Linked DNA regions of Homo sapiens: region 2 is linked to region 1. A link means that fine-mapping ties the variant in region 1 to the expression of a gene that starts in the linked region. Tissue or cell type: whole blood. Region 1 holds a variant in brackets; the other region holds the start of a gene. All regions are shown on one strand. Distances are between the middles of the regions.

Region 1 (8,255 bases):
GGTGAACCAGCGGGACCCGGGGCTTCCAGCCCGTAGCCCTTTGGCGTGAAGGGTCTCTGGAGTCAGCCGCCCTCGGGCGCCTTGGGGTTCCCATCTGTGAAGTGAAGGCTCCCACCTCGTTGGCCGCTGAGACCTTTACATTTCTGGAGATCTGTACGACCCTATGCCCTGGGCCTGGGGCTCCAGTGACCTTGGGCAGGCTACTTCCGGTCTCTGCATCTCAATTCCCCACCAGTAAATGGGGCATGGCTTCCCCAGAGCCCCTACCTGGCCCAGTTGCTGGTGAAAGAAAGTATGTGCTCAGGGAATGGGGTCACGCTGGGAGTGGGGTGGTTGGGCCTGGAGAGAGCAGGCTTAGGGTGCAGCCTGGGGGCAGGGGATGGGTGTTTGGTGCAGGGCCGGCGGGGAGGGGGGGAATCTGGCCAGAAGCCATCACGCTGTGGTTTCTGCTATATACCGTCCCTTCCCCCACATCCCATATCCTGGGGAGCCTTCCCTGATCCCAGATAGGTGGGAGGGGGGTGCTTCAGGGCCAGATACCTGGGGGTACTCGGAAGGATTTGACTCTTTGGTGGGTCCCAGGGTCCCAGACTGAGGCACTCATGATACCTGTTCGCGGAGAGTCCCCAGAGGCCAGGCTGGGAGAGACTGCCCAGCAAGATCATCACAGGGTAGAAGGAGCCCAGCAGAGCCTTGAAGACAGGTGTGGACAGGTGCAGGCCCCAGGGGAGGGGATGACTGGAATGGGCTTGGCAGTTAAGTGGCAATTTACAAGGATAAGGACCCTCCAAAGGCGAGGGCGTAGCTTGTGCAAAGTCAGGAATTTGGATGGTGTGTCTGAGGAATGGCAGAAAGGTGGGTGTGGCTGGCAGAGGTGTAGAGAGAACTCATCCTGTGTCCCATTCCTGGCTGGGGATTGTCAGGACTGGGCCTGGGGACCTTGCCTCCCCATTGGCTACTTGCATATTGGAGTAGTTTAGGAAGGGGGTGTCCCAGGCAGAGTACCGGTGACTGATGAGGTGGAGGGGGCAGAGGCCACCAGAGCCCTGATGGCCCCCAGGTTTTGTTTTGCATTCAAGCCTCCTACTCAACCCCAGCTTTATACCCCCACCACCTGGGCTCCAGCCATGCTTCACACATCCAGCCTCAGCTTTTTGTACAGATTGTTAATCCTCCTCCCAACCCTCTAGAAGCTTCCTCCCCATTCAAATCCCCAGGTCCTTTGGGACTTCAGGTTTCAGAGATGGGCTGCTGTTGCCCCTCCTTCCTGCCCAGCCTTCAGTCTTGTGTAATGGCACAGCTTAGGAAGGGTCTCCTTGGAGCTCTGTGGGGATGGGGCCTGCAGAGCCATGGGGATCATGGGACCTGGGGCCCCGAGTCCTTGTGCAGCCACCAATCACTATGTGACTCTACAAGTCCCCAAATTCCTCAGAGCCTCCATTTCCCCATCTGCAGGATGGAGTGATCAGCCCTGGCCTCATGCCCCAAAGAGAGACGGTGCTGGGGCAATAGTCAGGCCTATCTGCTAAGATGCTGGGGCAATAGGCCTATCTGCTAAGTCCTGTCTCCAGCATTGAGAGTTTGAATGAAAGAAAGAGAGAACCCAGGGGAAGGGGTCAGTTTAGAGGGGTTGGGGGGGTGTCTGAGAGTATCGGGGGCTAGTGGTGGACCAGGCCTAGGGCATCGGCTGGAGGTGGGGAGTCCCTTCCATTTTCCGGAGCCCTCTCTCCTTCCCACCCAACTCTCCCTTGGCTGAGCTCAAAGCCACCCGCCACTGCCCAAACAAGTGGCCTCTGTTCCCAGGGTAGGGGGAGGGGAGGCAGGCCCTGGGCTCCAGGCCCGCCTGTCCAGCGCTGACCCTGGCCCCCCGCCCCTCACTCTAGGTCTTAACCCTTGGGGGCCTGGACCGGGCCCTGGGCTCCTTGAGGGCTGGTGATTCTTGTTCACCAGCTGTCCCCTCTACCCCGCTTCAGGCTCCCAAGGGTTCTGTCACATCAGGAGGGGATGCAGTAGGAAATGGGGAAGGAAGGAGGGAACAAGGGTGGGGGACAGGCTGGAGCAGATATGGCCATGGACACTTAGAGACCATTTGGCCTAAAAGCTTCTTTCACAGATGGGGAAACTGAGGCCAAGAGCTAGAGATGAGGGTAGGATCACACAGAGACCCCTGGTGGGGGTCAGGACAGGTTCTGTCTCCTAGTCTGGCCTCTCTGGGGGAAAGGGGAGAGAGGGAGAGGGAACTTTTTTTTTTTTTTTGAGACGGAGTCTTGCTCTGTTGCCCAGGCTGGAGTGCAGTGGCACAATCTTGGCTCCACCTTCTGGGTTCATGCCATTCTCCTGCCTCAGCCTCCTGAGTAGCTGGGACTACAGGCGCCCGCCACCACACCTGGCTAATTTTTGTATTTTTAGTAGAGACGGGGTTTCACCTTGTTAGCCAGGATGGTCTCAATCTCCTGACCTCGTGATCTGCCCGCCTCAGCCTCCCAAACTGCTGGGGTTACAGGTGTGAGCCACCACTCCCGGCTGGGAGAGGGAACATTCTTTGTTGAGTACCTGCTGTGTGCTGGACACTGCACATTTGTCATCTAATGATTTACATAATTGCATAAGAGCATAAGACGACCATCACCCTCCAATATCATAGTGGAAGTAACAGCCTTAGAGAAAGCTGAGTAATAACATCAGTGAGAATGAGGTCAGCAAACATGCCTATAGCACTGTTGTAAAGTTTTATCCATATTAACCAATTCCACCCTGCCAATAACCCAAGAAATTAGGTGACATTCTACAGATAAGGAAACTGAGGCACAGAGAGGCTAAGTAACTTGTGTAAGAATACATTGGGAGGGTGGTAGAGAGACAGGGTCAGGACCCAGGTGTTCATTGCCTCCTTTGTCTGACTTCACTTTGATCTTACTCTTTGAGCACCTCCCAGGGCTGAGTGAGGTGCTTTCCCCGGGTGGTGACCGAGGCAGCCTTGAACAGTGTGTGACCCCAGCTAAGCTGACCCAGTCCCCGCTCTGGAGCAGAGTCCAGTCCCTCGGGCAGCTCTTCTCATTTCTTTCTCTGGTCTTGGGCAGGTTAGAGTCAGCACCCTCCACAGCCCTGTGCAGAGAGGTGTTATGTTTTAGAAAGGAGTTCTGTGCTAAGGGTGGCCACTCCAGGGTTCTGAACAGCATGAGGATTTGGTGGGTGGGGAGACATCCCCATCCAATGTGCATGCCCCACAAAACTCAGAGGCTGCCGCTGAATCAACCCCAGTGTCCCCAGCTCTGATCAGAGATAACATTTTTTCCACCTTCCCCTACCCCTGGCCAGGCCCCCAGACTGTATGTGCATTCCAACCAGGGATCTGAGGAGGACAGTCCCACCTGGAGGCAGATGACCCCAGATGTGAAAGATGGTGGGGGGCAATGCATGGATTGTGTTCCACATGGTCTTCCTGTGGAATGTCTCTTTTTCTCATCCTTGGGCCGTAGTACAGAGGGGAAGAGCCTGTCCCATAGTTAGGTTATCTGTCCTAGGCCACTGGGACAGTCAAAGAGTGGCTGGGAGGGGACGTGGAGTTAAGTGACCAGTTCAATAACAAATCATTTTTTTTTTTTTTGAGATGGAGTCTTGCTCTGTAGCCCAGGCTCAAGTGTGGTGGCATGATCTCGGCTCACTGCAACCTCCGCCTCCCGGGTTCAAGCGATTCTCCTGCCTCAGCCTCCCGAGTAGCTGGGATTACAGGCACGCGCCACCATACCCAGCTAATTTTTGTATTTTTAGTAGAGACGGGGTTTCACCATGTTGGCCAGGATGATCTTGAACTCCTGACCTCGTGATCCGCCCGCCTTGGCCTCCCAAAGTGCTGGGATTACAGGTGTGAGCCACTGGGCCCAGTCAACAAATCATTATTTAATAGTAGTAATAATAGTAGCAGTAGCTATTGTTTCTTGGAAGCTGACTATGTGCCAGGCAGTGTGCTAAGCACTTTATATACTGAATTCATTTAATCCTCAAAATAGTCTTCTGAGGTAGGCACCATTCCCATTTTCCACATGAGGAAACTGAGGTCCCAAGAAGTTAAGTGATTTGTCCAAGATCATCCATTACATAGAATAGCTGGGAATCTACATTTCCATTGCTTCACAGTGAAAACCACAAGCACTGGGAGGCATTGCAGACAGAGGAGATCTAAACCCAGTCCTACCCTGGGAATGCCTAGTCAGTGATAGGCAGAGACTAGAGGGCCACCTGGTCAGGTGACATTGCTGGTGACCAACTGTGGATCTGGGGTGCCCTCAAGGGTACAGGGGTATCCTGCTTGCAGACGGGACTAATTGCCGTCAAATCCTGAGCCCCCGTGGCCCTGGCCCTGGGATAAGCGTCTTGTGGAGGTTTGGTTTCTGCTATTGTCCTATCCACCTTGGCTCTTGTTCATACAGTGGTTCTCCCAGACCCCATTTTGCTGATGAGACTAAGGCCAGTAGAAGGTGGTGACTTGCCTGCAGTCTCTCAGCCAAGGAAAGCAAGAGCAGGCCCTGGAACCCCGGCAGGGCGCTCTGAGGCCTGCATTCTACCTCTCTGCTTGAGGCCTGGTTGGGGCTTCCTGAAGTGTTGAGCTTCCTTCAGACCCTGCCCACACTGCCTTGTTACAAGGTCCAAGTCTTTTCTCCCTGACCAAACCAGGAACCTGATCCTGTTGGGATGCTGGGGCTTTGCTACAGCAGGGTGTCAGTAACTGAACAACCCTGGAAACATGGTTCTAGAGCCCAGAGACAGGGACCACCTATGGTCCAGTGTGTGGGGCTCAGGGTCAGAGGGGCCTAGAGGAAGATTAAGGCATCAGAGAGTCCTCCCTGAGGGGATGTGTTAAAATCTCCCTCCTGTCCTTATCCTCACTGTTGTGAGGGCAACGGTAAAGGCAAGAGGGTGGGAGAAGATCAGGAGGGCCACTTCTCTATCCCCATTCTCAGGGCAGAACCAGGGG[T/C]CACACCTGGAATCTTGGCTGTCAGTGGCCCTGGGGGAGCTTGGGCTGGCCCTGCCTCCTTCTGGCCAGGCCAGTGCTGGGGTGGCTTAACCCCCGGGACAGAAGACCAGGAGCAAGGCTGAGCTGCCACTGCATTTCGGCTTTCCAGGTGCCAGGGTCTCCCCTGCCAGCTTTCCTACTGGCCCAGCGAGCACTGCCCCACCCTGGGCATCCCCCTCTCTCCTCCCCAACCCATAATGCATAGGGCAGGGGTCTGCCTGTAGTCAGGTGCAGAGTCAGGAACCCAGGGTCTGCCTCAGGCCTCTAGCTCAGTGAGAGACCTTTGGCTGGGCATTTATCTTTACTGTACTCAACTTCCCTGGAGCTTCAGGGAGGGGCAGTAAGGAGCGACTCTGGGGATCCCCCAGGCTTACCAGCCCCCAGTTGTGAACAGGTCAGGACAGAAACCAACCAAATTGGGCAGGTGAGAGGGGGAGGGGGTTGGGGGGAGGGGGCTGTTCCACTCCTCTCCACTCCCTTCTCTTCACACTGAGCAGCTAGAATTTTAAGATTCTGAGTCTGAGATTCTAGGCTGGTGAGATTCGAGGATTTTAGGGTTTTATGTGCCTGTGAGTCCCAGCTTCTGAATTTCCGAAATTCTAGGTTCCGAGAGCCTAAAAAGCCTCGAGTTGGGCTGGGTCACCCCCAAGTTGAGGCTGGGGCATGTGCCGTGCTTCAGCCTGGTTGGTGCAGACGGCTGAGGCCTGGAGAGTTTCTCAGTGCTGGCTGGTGGGTCAGAGGCACAGCTGGTCTCCAGGTGCCGGGTGCTCCCTGCATCTACCACCCCCAGCACACACCCGGCTGTCTCCCCTTCAAGAAATCTGGGAACCCTGCAGACTAGGTGGTAGCAGAGGGGCACTCAGTTATCTTGGCAGTGGGGAGAGATGGGCCAGGCCCCCTCTGCATTCACGGGTTGTAGTGGGGCTGTTCCCGTGGACACTAGGGCGGGGTTGGGGAGGGCTGGTGGCTGGCTAATTCAAAGAGCAAGGTCAGGGTCACACTGCTGGCCATCAGGGCCAGTATGGGATGTGGCTCAGCAGACCAAGGTTAAGCCTTGAAGGGTCAGAGCCAGGCTCAGGAGCCTCTGCAGAAGGTGGTGGACAGAGATCAAGAGCCTGAGGGGACGTATTGCTCTGCCTTAGGGTATAGAAGGCTGGGCTTGACTGAGGGACTTAGGAGCTACCATCCCTAGCTGTTTCCCGTGCTGTCTGGGCCTGTGGGCACAGCAGCTGCACTCAAGAGGCTGCGGGTCAGGAGCAGCTCTGCCCCTCAGAGAAGCACAACCCAGCCAGGAGCCCAGCCAGGCAGTCGTCCAGGAGAAGGGCACTGACAGCCAAGATTCCAGGTGTGGCCCCTGGTCCTCTCCACCTTTGAGACATGACACAGGTGCCCTTTGGGACACAGGAGTGTCTCCTGGAAGATTGCCTGGCCAGGCTCCTGGCGGGGTCGTGCTTCCCAGCCCCAGCCTGCAGCACATCCCTCCAGTGGGTACTCCATGCGGGTATGGTCAGCATTCCTCATGGGTTGGGGTAGGAGGGGCCCAGTTCTGCACCCCTTGATGTGTGAGCTGGGCAAGGCTTTCACCCACTTGAAACTTGGTCTCTCGGGTGGCCAGGCATGGTGGCTCATGCCTGTAATCCCAGCACTTTGGGAGGCCGACGCGGGCGGATCACAAGGTCAGGAGATCAAGACCATCCTGGCTAACACGGTGAAACCCCGTCTCTACTAAAAATACAAAAAAAAAAAAAAAAAAAAAATTAGCCGGACGTGGTGGCAGGCGCCTGTAGTCCCAGCTACTCAGGAGGCTGAGGCAGGAGAATGGCGTGAACCCGTGAGGCGGAGCTTGCAGTGAGCCGAGATCGAGCCACTGCACTCCAGCCTGGGCGACAGAGCGAGACTCCGTCTCAAAAAAAAAAAAAAAAAAAAAAAAGAAAGAAACTTGGGCTGCTGTGTGGGTTTGCAGCTTAAATGCAAGTTTGTTCCCAGTGGCCACAGTGTGCCTGGTAGGGAGAATGGGCCACCCCTTTCCACTCCAGGAGCAGAGTTGGAGACTGACACTTTTCCAGATGATAACAGGAAAGCTCTGGGGTAGCGGCTCCCGTGCTTGGTGAAGGGGCACCAGAGCCTTGGCTAAAGGCTTCCCTCCCCTGCTCTGCCTGGGGCTGCTCTCTTCCTTCTGTCTCTTTCTCGGCTCTAAAGATGGACATGCTAAGCCTAGGGAGTCTGAAGATCCAGGGGGTGTCTAGTGGTTCTGTTCCAGTTTCTGTTCCACGGACATGAACCAGGACACTCATTTGCCTCTACTGCCTGTGGCCTGAAAACCCACATTTCTCAGTGCAGAACTGGCTTAGCCCACTTGGAGATATGTGGGGGACGGGGGAGGGAGGTTGCTCCAGTATCTCTAATGTTGCCTGAGGCCCCCTCCCCAGTTCTTCCAAGGAACAGGCTGCTGGAGATATCTGAGCTCAGGCTCGGGGGCCAAGGTCTGAGTCATGGTCCTGACTTGCCCGTGCGGCCCTGGCTAGGTTCTTGCCCCTTCTGGGACTGGGACTTACTTTCATTTCTAGAAATGTGGAAGGTTGATTTGGTGGTTCCTAAGTGCCTAAGGAGCAGGTGGTTGGGTTGTGTGGTACTGGTCGAGAAGGCAGGGCTGGGTAGTAGAACTATAGTAGAACTATAACTGGGTGGGACTGGGTGGAATGGGAGGCACCTCGTATTGGGAGGCTGGAGGCTGGGTTCTGGCCACACTTTGGCCACTGATTTGCAGTGGCAAGTTGTCATTTGCCTGGCTCTCCATGTGTAAAATTGGGAAATGTTCGTTCAGTCAACAGATATTCACTGTGTGCCACCTTTGGGACACAGGTATCCCTGGTCTTGCCTGAGAAAGCACCCAGCCAGGGTTGGGGGTAAGAGAGTATGTATGTGACAGACACAGTCACAGATGGTGACACACACAGTCACAGATGGTGACATCTGGTGTGATCAGGGCTGTGACTGTGGGAGTCGGAGACTGCTTCCTCAAGCAGGTGGCACTTGAGCTTGCAGGGTGAGGTAGAGAAAGATGTTCTAGGCAAAGGGAACCGGGTAAGCAAAGGCTTGGTGGTGAAGCCCTGGTGTTGGAGCGTGAGAGTGGAGGAAATGAGACCAGAGGGGAGGGGCAGGTGGCAGGAGCCAGTGGGTGGAAGCCCCTTGAGCCCCACTGGGTAATGGGGGGTCAGGCAAGGGGTAGGCAGGCAGGAGA
Region 2 (8,000 bases), 45 kb before region 1:
TTAAAAAATTGTTTTTTTTTTTGAGACAGAGTCTCACTCTGTTGCCCAGGCCAGAGTGCAGAGTGCAGTGGCACAATCTCGGCTCACTGCAACCTCCACCTCCCAGGCTCAAGCGATTCTCCTGCCTCAGCCTCCTAAGTAGCTGGGATTACAGGTGTGCACCACCATGCCTGACTAATTTTTGTATTTTTGGTAGAGACAAGTTTTCGCCATGTTGGCCAGGCTGGTCTCGAACTCCTGGCCTCGAGTGATCCCCATGCCTTGGCCTCTGAAAGTGTTGGGATTACAAGCGTGAGCCACTGCACCCGGCCTATTAATACAATTTTGTAAACCAAAAAGTACCTGAGACAGGTCTCTATCAGTTTAGAGATTTATTTTACCATGGTTGAGGACAAACCTGGGAAAGAGACAACAGCCACAGTAGAATCTGTGGCCCATACTTTTTTTCCAAAGAGGAGTTTGAGACCAGGTGGGGTGGTTCACGCCTGTAATCCCAGCACTTTGGGAGGCAAGGCAGGAGGATCCCTTGAACTCAAGAGTTTGAGACCAGCCTGGGCAACATGGCGTAACCCTGTCTCTACAAAAATCACAAAAAATTAGGCTGGGCGCGGTGGCTCACACCTGCAATTCCAGCACTTTGGGAGGCCAAGGCAGGGGGATCACCTGAGGTCAGGAGTTTGAGACCAGCCTGGCCACCATGGTGAAACCCCATCTCTACTAAAAATACAAAAATTAGGCCAGGCATGATGGCTCACGCCTGTAATCCCAGCACTTTGGGAGGCCGAGGTGGGTGGATCATGAGATCGGGAGTTCGTGACCAGCCTGACCAACAGCGTGAAACCTCGTCTCTAAAAAAATACAAAAAAAAAAATTGCTGGGCATGGTGGTGAGCACCTGTAATCCCAGCTACTCAGGAGGCTGAGGCGGGAGAATCTCTTGAACCCAGGAGGCAGAGGTTGCAGTGAGCCAAGATCACGACACTGCACTCCAGCCTGAGCGACAGAGCAAGACTCCTTCTCAAAAAAAAAAAAAAAATTAGCTGGGCGTGTTGGTGTGCGCCTGTAATCTCAGCTACTTGGGAGGCTGAAGTAGAAGAATCCCTTGAACCTGGCAGGCGGAGGTTGCAGTGAGCCAAGATCGTTGCAGTGAGCCACTGCACTCCAGCCAGGGTGACAGAATAAGACTCCATCTAAAAAAAAAAAAAAAAAAGGCAAAACATAATTAAAGTGAGAATTAAAAAAAAATTAGCCAGGTGTAGTGGTGTGTGCCTATAAACACAGCTACTCAGGAGGTTGAGGTGGGAGAATAGATTGAGCCCAGGAGGTCCAGGCTGCAGTGAACAATGGTCTTGCCTCCAGCCTGGGTGACAGAATGAGACCCTGTCTCAAAAAAACAAAAACAAGGCCGGGCACAGTGGCTCACACCTGTAATCCCAGCACTTTGGGAGGCCGAGGTGGGCGGATCACACGGTCAGGAGATCGAGACCATCCTGGCTAACACGGTGAAACCCCATCTCTACTAAAAAAATACAAAAAAAAAAATTAGCCCGGCGTGGTGGCGGGTGCCTGTAGACCCAGCTACTCAGGAGGCTGAGGCAGGAGAATGGCATGAACCCGGGAGGCGGAGCTGGCAGTGAGCCCCAGATCATGCCACTGCACTCCAGCCTAGATGACAGAGCAAGTCTCCGTCTCAAAAAAAAAAACAAAAAACAAAAAAAAAACCACAAACGAACAGCCCCTGCCCTCCCCCCAAAAAAGACAAACTGCATCTCACACACAGGTGACCCCTGTGAATACAGTCTCTGAGGAGTGATGGAAGAGGAAGCCCTGTGAGAGGTGCAGACTGCTACCCTCTAGAACACCAGGATGCCTAAATAGTAGAGGGCAGTTTCATTAGCGACATCAGTTTGCAAACTGAAAAGAGACACTCTCCTGTAGGTACCAAAGGTGCTCTCTCTTTGTATAGGGAAAAGGCAGGCTGGTTGTTTTTTGTTTTTGTTTTTTGAGACGGAGTCTCGCTCAGTCGCCCAGGCTGGAATGCAGTGGTGCGATCTCGGCTCACTGCAACCTCCACCTCCCAGGTTCATGCCATTCTCCTGCCTCAGCCTCCCGAGTAGCTGGGACTACAGGCGCCCGCCACCACACCCAGCTAATTTTTTTGTATTTTTAGTAGAGACGGGGTTTCACCATGTTAGCCAGGATGGTCTCAATCTTCTGACCTCGTGATCCGCCCGTCTTGGCCTCCCAAAGTGCTGGGATTACAGGCGTGAGCCACCACTCCCGGCCTAGGCTGGTTTATGACTCACAGGGTCTGTATTTCACAATAATCATACATATTCAGCAGGTTTTGGGGAAAAGCTATACATATTTATGAGGGGATGTGAGTGCATGCACAATGGGTAAACACCTGTAACATATGTTCCATGTTCACTTTGGGATGGGGTTTTTGCGTTAAAGTGAGGTGGAATTTGGTTCTTTGCATCATAAGGTGGACTATAGGACACAAACACAGTTTGCGTGCAGTCTCTATGAGCTTGCTGAAACTGGCCTGAGGTCTGCAGTTACTTATCAGGAAAGAATGTTTGTAAGGCCTGTCCTCTGTCGATCAGCGTTGTAGTGGTCTGAGTTGTAAATCTCAGTAAAGAAGAGTCTGACAATTTGCATGATAGCTCCTATTGCTAGGGGTTTAGTAAGAGTGTGGTTTTTCTGGCAGCAGTAGAAATTTAAGAAGTTGCCATGCCAGCTGACAGCTGAGCCCTGAGGTAGGCAACGTTTGTTTCCTTAACCTTAACCTTAAGGTCCATCGTAGTTGATAAAAAGGCATCTGGCCAGGCCTGATGGCTCACGCCTATAATCCCAGCACTTTGGGAGGGTGAGGCGGGAGGCCAGCAGTTCTGGGGCCACTGCACTCCAGCCTGACAGACAGAGACCCTGTCTCAAAAAATAAATAAATAAAAAAGATAAAGGGGCATTTGTCTTGATCGCTCAGATCACACAACTAATAAGTAGCATTCTTTCTAAAAGCCGCAACAATGCTACTCCTCTCTTATAAGAGCTACTGTGTAACTCCTGCCCAACTCAAACCCACAGGCCCAGGCTCAGAACACTTGGCTCCATTGCTTCACTGTTTCCCTGCTAGCACGAACCCCCCAAACTCCATCTCCCAACATGCCGCGGGCCCCCTTTCTGTCAGCCTGACTCTTGAGCTCCTGAGAAATGTAGTTTTTCCAGCGGCCCAGCCCCAGAAAGGTCCTAGCCAAGAACTACAGTTCCCATGTGGCAATGCGCGCGCCATTCCGGTGGAATTCACCGCGGTCTCCAGTTTGCCATGATGGATGCCAGAACCTGCACGTGGGGCTTGGTGACGCGATGACTGAGATGCTGGAGTCCCCGGTCAGAAGGACGATGCCGAGCGCGCCGTATTTTCTCCTGCCTCTCCTCAGATCGCCGCCGTTGTTGGGCTGTGGAGACGTCTCAACCAAAGTGGAGCCGACAGAGGCCCCGGGAGCCGTGGTGACAGAGCGGCCACAACCACTAGGGGGCGGGAGGCAGAGCGGCCCCTAGTCCGCCCCTAGTCCGGGACCTCTGGGCGGTCCCGGGCGGGAAGCGCACGCGCAAACGCGGGGCTTCGCGGCCGCTGTAAACACCAAAGAGCGCCTGCGCAAGCCGAGAGTCTCGGGATCGACACGTGGGGGCGCCTGAGCGAAGATAACCGTAATAAATAGTAACCTAACGGTCCAGTCATCGTTCTGTGGTCCTTTCTTTTATGATTCACAAGGAATGACCCTCTTCATCGCCTCTCCTAATTCAGTCCTCACAACAGTCCTTTTACAAATGGGACAACAGGTTAGAGGAAGTCAGGCAGATTTCCAGCATCATAGAGAGTAAAGGACCAGGGAAGGATCAGGATTCAAGGACTGCACCCAGGCTCTGCTTCCAGCTTGCTGTGTGACTTTGGGTAATTTTGTTCCCTTAGGGAACTGAGCTTTCTCATTTGTAAATGCAAACAGGCTGTTGGGAGGATCAAATGAGATCCAGGGGTGAAAACAGCTTAGTTTACTTTCAGGAATTTACCCACGCGGTATATAAAGGCAAAATATTATTATAGTCAGGTGATTGTAGATTGAGGAACCCATTTCCTCATTCTGCAAATTGCAAACCTGAGGGCCCAAAGAGGGACAGGGGCTTGCCCCAGGTCTCAGCAGGCTGTGAGCAAGAGCTAAAGCCTAATCCTCCTGCCTTTGGGCCTGGAGCCCTTCCTTGTACCCCAGGGGTCAGTGTCTTTGTTGGATACAGGCTTAGATTGACTGACTGTACCCTGAGAACCTAGGGGAGTCCCTGTTCCCAATTCTTCTCCTACCCCCACCTTGGCCTGATGGAGGAAGACCCTGCTGTGTTGAGATGAGCACCAGAGCCAAGAAGCTGAGGAGGATCTGGAGAATTCTGGAGGAAGAGGAGAGTGTTGCTGGAGCTGTACAGACCCTGCTTCTCAGGTCAGTGGCCCAAGTAAGGGAAAGAACCCAGGTGTGACAGATGAGGGGGCAGCACTAAGGGGACAGACTCTGAATGGAAAGGAGTGGGAAGGCAGTGGACACTGTTTCTGAGCTTGGGAGGAATTGGGTACTCAGGTAACTCCATCTGGGGGCAGTGGAGCTGGAGGTGATACCTGGGCTGGCCTGGCTGATGAGAAGGGGAAGTGATGCGCATTGAGCTGAGGTCTAGGAGCCACTCCCCAGCCAGGTGAAGCGAGGTGGCACCTAGGCACACCATGGCACCTGCAGGATCATGCAGCTAACCCCAGGGAAGGGGACTTTTCTCTGACCCTTGGAGCGGTGGAGCTGGGCTGTATGCAGCTGATTCTCTCTAGAGTGCTCTTAGAGGTTTTGGGGGTAGGTTGGGGGAAGGGCTGGGAGACCCTGAGGTCTCATTACAGATTGGGCCTCCCCAGGCAAGTCATGAAAGGCAGGTATATGTAGAAATAGAAATCCAAGATCCTTCAAGATATCCCAGATAGGCCAGGCACGGTGGCTCACGCCTGTAATCTCAGCACTTTGGGAGGCTGAGGCGAGCGGATCACCTGAGGTTGGGGGTTGAGATCAGCCTGACCAAAGTGGAGAAACTCCATCTCTACTAAAAATACAAAAAAAAAAATTAACCGGGCGTTGTGGCGGGCACCTGTAGTCCCAGCTACTCGGGAGGCTGGGGCAGGAGAATGGCGTGAACCCGGGAGACGGAGCTTGCGGTGAGCCGAGATGGCGCCACTGTACTCCAGCCTGGCTGACAGAGTAAGACTCTGTCTCAAAAAAAAAAAAAAAAAAAAAAAAAATTAGCCAGGTGTGGTGGTGTATGCCGGTAGTCCCAGCTACTCGGGAGGCTGAGGCAGAAGAATCGCTTGAACCCAGGAGGCGGAGGTTGTCGTGGGCCGAGATGGTGCCATTGCACTCCAGCCTGGGCAACAAGAACGAAACTCCGTCTCAAAACAAAACAAAACAAAACAAAACACAACAACAAAAAGGTATCCAAGATAATTCAATGGAATTATCTGGAGGTGGATCTTGGATTCACCTCCAAGCATTTAATTATCTGGGCCTTCACTTATCATTTCTGTTTTTCAGCCAGAGAAACTGAGGCTAAAGAAGGAAAAGGACCTCTTTTTTTTTTTTTGAGACGGAATTTCACTCTTGTTGCCCAGGCTGGAGTGCAAGGGTGCGATCTTGGCTCACTGCAACCTCCGCCTCCTGGGTTTAAGCAATTCTCCTGCCTCAGCCTGCCAAGTAGCTGGGATTACAGGTGCCCACTACCATGCCTGGCTAATTTTTTGTATTTTTAGTAGAGACACGGTTTCACCATGTTGGCCAGGCTGGTCTCAAACTCCTGACCTCAGGTGATCCATTCGCGGCCTCCCAAAGTGCTGGGATTATGGGCATGAGTCACCACGCCCGGCCAGAAAAGGACTCTATTAAGGACACACAAGGAGTTGGGGTAGAACTGGACTACGACAGGGATCTTTCCATTACATGGCAGTAGTCAAACATCTTCATCAAACATTTATTTAGTGTCTAATGTATACTCCGAGAAGGACTACCTTGGGGTAGCAAATAGAAGCCAGGATTGCCCTCAGACCTGGCTTTTAACCAGCCCTCCCAGTGATTTAAGACTGTGACCCCAGGTGAGTCCCTGCCCCTCTCTGAGCCTCAAATTGTCTGTAAAGTGGGGATGCTAAGCCTTGGGACTGTCTCAATGTTTACCTATAAATTAAATGAGTTAAGACCTGTTATCAAGGTTTACCTATAAATTAAATGAGTTAAGACCTGTTAAGTGCATAGACCAGCACCAGGCCCGTGGTAAGCATTCAGTAACTGTTAGCCACTGTTGTTACTTGTGAACACAGGTCGAGGCAGGCCGCAGATGGGGTTCTCCAAAAGTCAATGCAGGGGCAGAGAAGCAGCAGCCCCAGGTCTGACCATCTCTAGATACCTCCACACCCTGCCCTGGGTGCCTGCATTTCTGAAAGTCAAGGGAGGACCCATGTCCCCATCTCCTCCTCCAGTTCTGGGAAGCTGGCAGGGGAGAAATGTCTCGAGTGTTTACACCTGCACATGCACATGATTCTCTTCCCCACAACCTGAGGCCAAGAGTGAAGATGGTTTTTACTCAAAGCTACACATTACAGCCCTGGACAGTCAGACCAGAACAAGATCCTGGGCTCTTTCTGGCCCTTTCAGGGTGTGGGGTTGTGCATGAGCTTCCTCCCTGCATGGCAGAAGTCCATGAATGCTAACAGCAGGTTCTTGGTCCTCGTTTCCCCTCATGGAGCAGGGGCTGGGGGAAGAGGGGCGCCTGGGTGGGAGACAGGGCCTGACATCAGATACCCCCCCGGCCCACCTTGTTAGTAGTTGGAGGCCTGGCCCTGTGCTCACTTTAGCTCTGTTTCAAGCTTCCCTAATGGAAGTCTGGTTCAAACTCCTTATTTATAGAGGAGGAAAGAGAATCCCAGAGAGGCCAGAACTCACTGAGAGCCCCACGGCGAGGTAAGCGTGAGTCTGGTCCAGAACTCAAGCCTCCTGACTTCAGGTGAGGGCTCTGCCCACAGCCACATGGGAGGGGGCAGGGCTTGATTCCACCTCTCCTCCCCCCACTACCCTCATAGTCATGCTTGGAGCCAGCTCCCAATGTAGCCACCTGGGTGGGCTGTGGTTTGCAGGGAGGGTTGGGAAGATGGAGAGGTAAGGGAAGGAGAGTACAGGGCCCAGTCGGGAGAAACCCAGGGCCGGTCTGGGGCGAGTGGGGCCGAGAGCTCTCCTTGGTGTGCGTGTGGCTGCTGCAGGATTGTGGGGCCTTCATCAGTCTGAGGCAGCAGAGGATGCAGATCCTGTGGGAGCACATTCCTGGAGGAGGGGAGCAAAGCAGGCTCAGAGGAGTGAGTCACGGAGCCCAAGCCCTAAATTTAGAAGGTGCTGAAAGAGGCAGTCTTCCCCCGGGAAGCCTGTGGAGATACCTGCTGACCCAGAACACCAGGGACTCACGGCAGGGAGCAGTGGTTGGCAGGAGTCCCCAGATAGCAGTGCCCATGGAAGCTGAGCCTGCTGCAGGCCTGTTCCAGGTGTGGGTTTGGAACCTAGGGTGAACCTTGACCCAGGGCAGAGCCTTCAGCCCCATTCTCAGACAGAGCCCCTAGAGAATTCCACCCACACCAGTCCTCACGCGGTCCTGGGAGCCAGCCCCTGGAATGTGGACCTCTCAGTGCCATGCTGCCCTCTGGCTAGACATGGCCAGACCCCCTGTGCCTCACTGCTGTCCCAGCATGCAGCTGTCAGACATTGAGGAGGGGCTGTGTGGGTGCAAGGAGCAAATGCCATTGACACCAGGCCTTTCGCAGCTCTGCTTGGATTGGGGGTGAGGGAGGGGGACAAGATGTCATTTCAGCTACCTCTCTTCCCTCTCAACCCTCCAGGCTCTAGGTTAACCCCACTCAGGAGAAAGAAATCATTGCCTCCAGAC

What was found. PIP is the estimated chance that this variant, and not a neighbour inherited with it, causes the effect.
Region 2: it holds the start of STARD10, and the variant in region 1 is fine-mapped to the expression of STARD10 in whole blood (TOPMed, PIP above 0.99).

Annotation. Positions count from the first base shown.
Region 1 is chr11:72,743,872-72,752,126 of GRCh38, reverse strand. All of the region lies in intron 1 of ARAP1 (ArfGAP with RhoGAP domain, ankyrin repeat and PH domain 1), which reads left to right. Among named protein-coding and RNA genes, the nearest start is that of ARAP1, 4.4 kb to the left of the region's middle. RefSeq lists enhancers at 1-38, 2,698-2,857. The variant T/C (reference allele first, on the strand shown) is at 4,976.
Region 2 is chr11:72,789,367-72,797,366 of GRCh38, reverse strand. It overlaps STARD10 (StAR related lipid transfer domain containing 10), which reads left to right and starts at 3,320. Exons shown (of 7, transcript NM_006645.3): 1 at 3,320-4,492. RefSeq lists enhancers at 2,995-3,564, 4,696-5,195.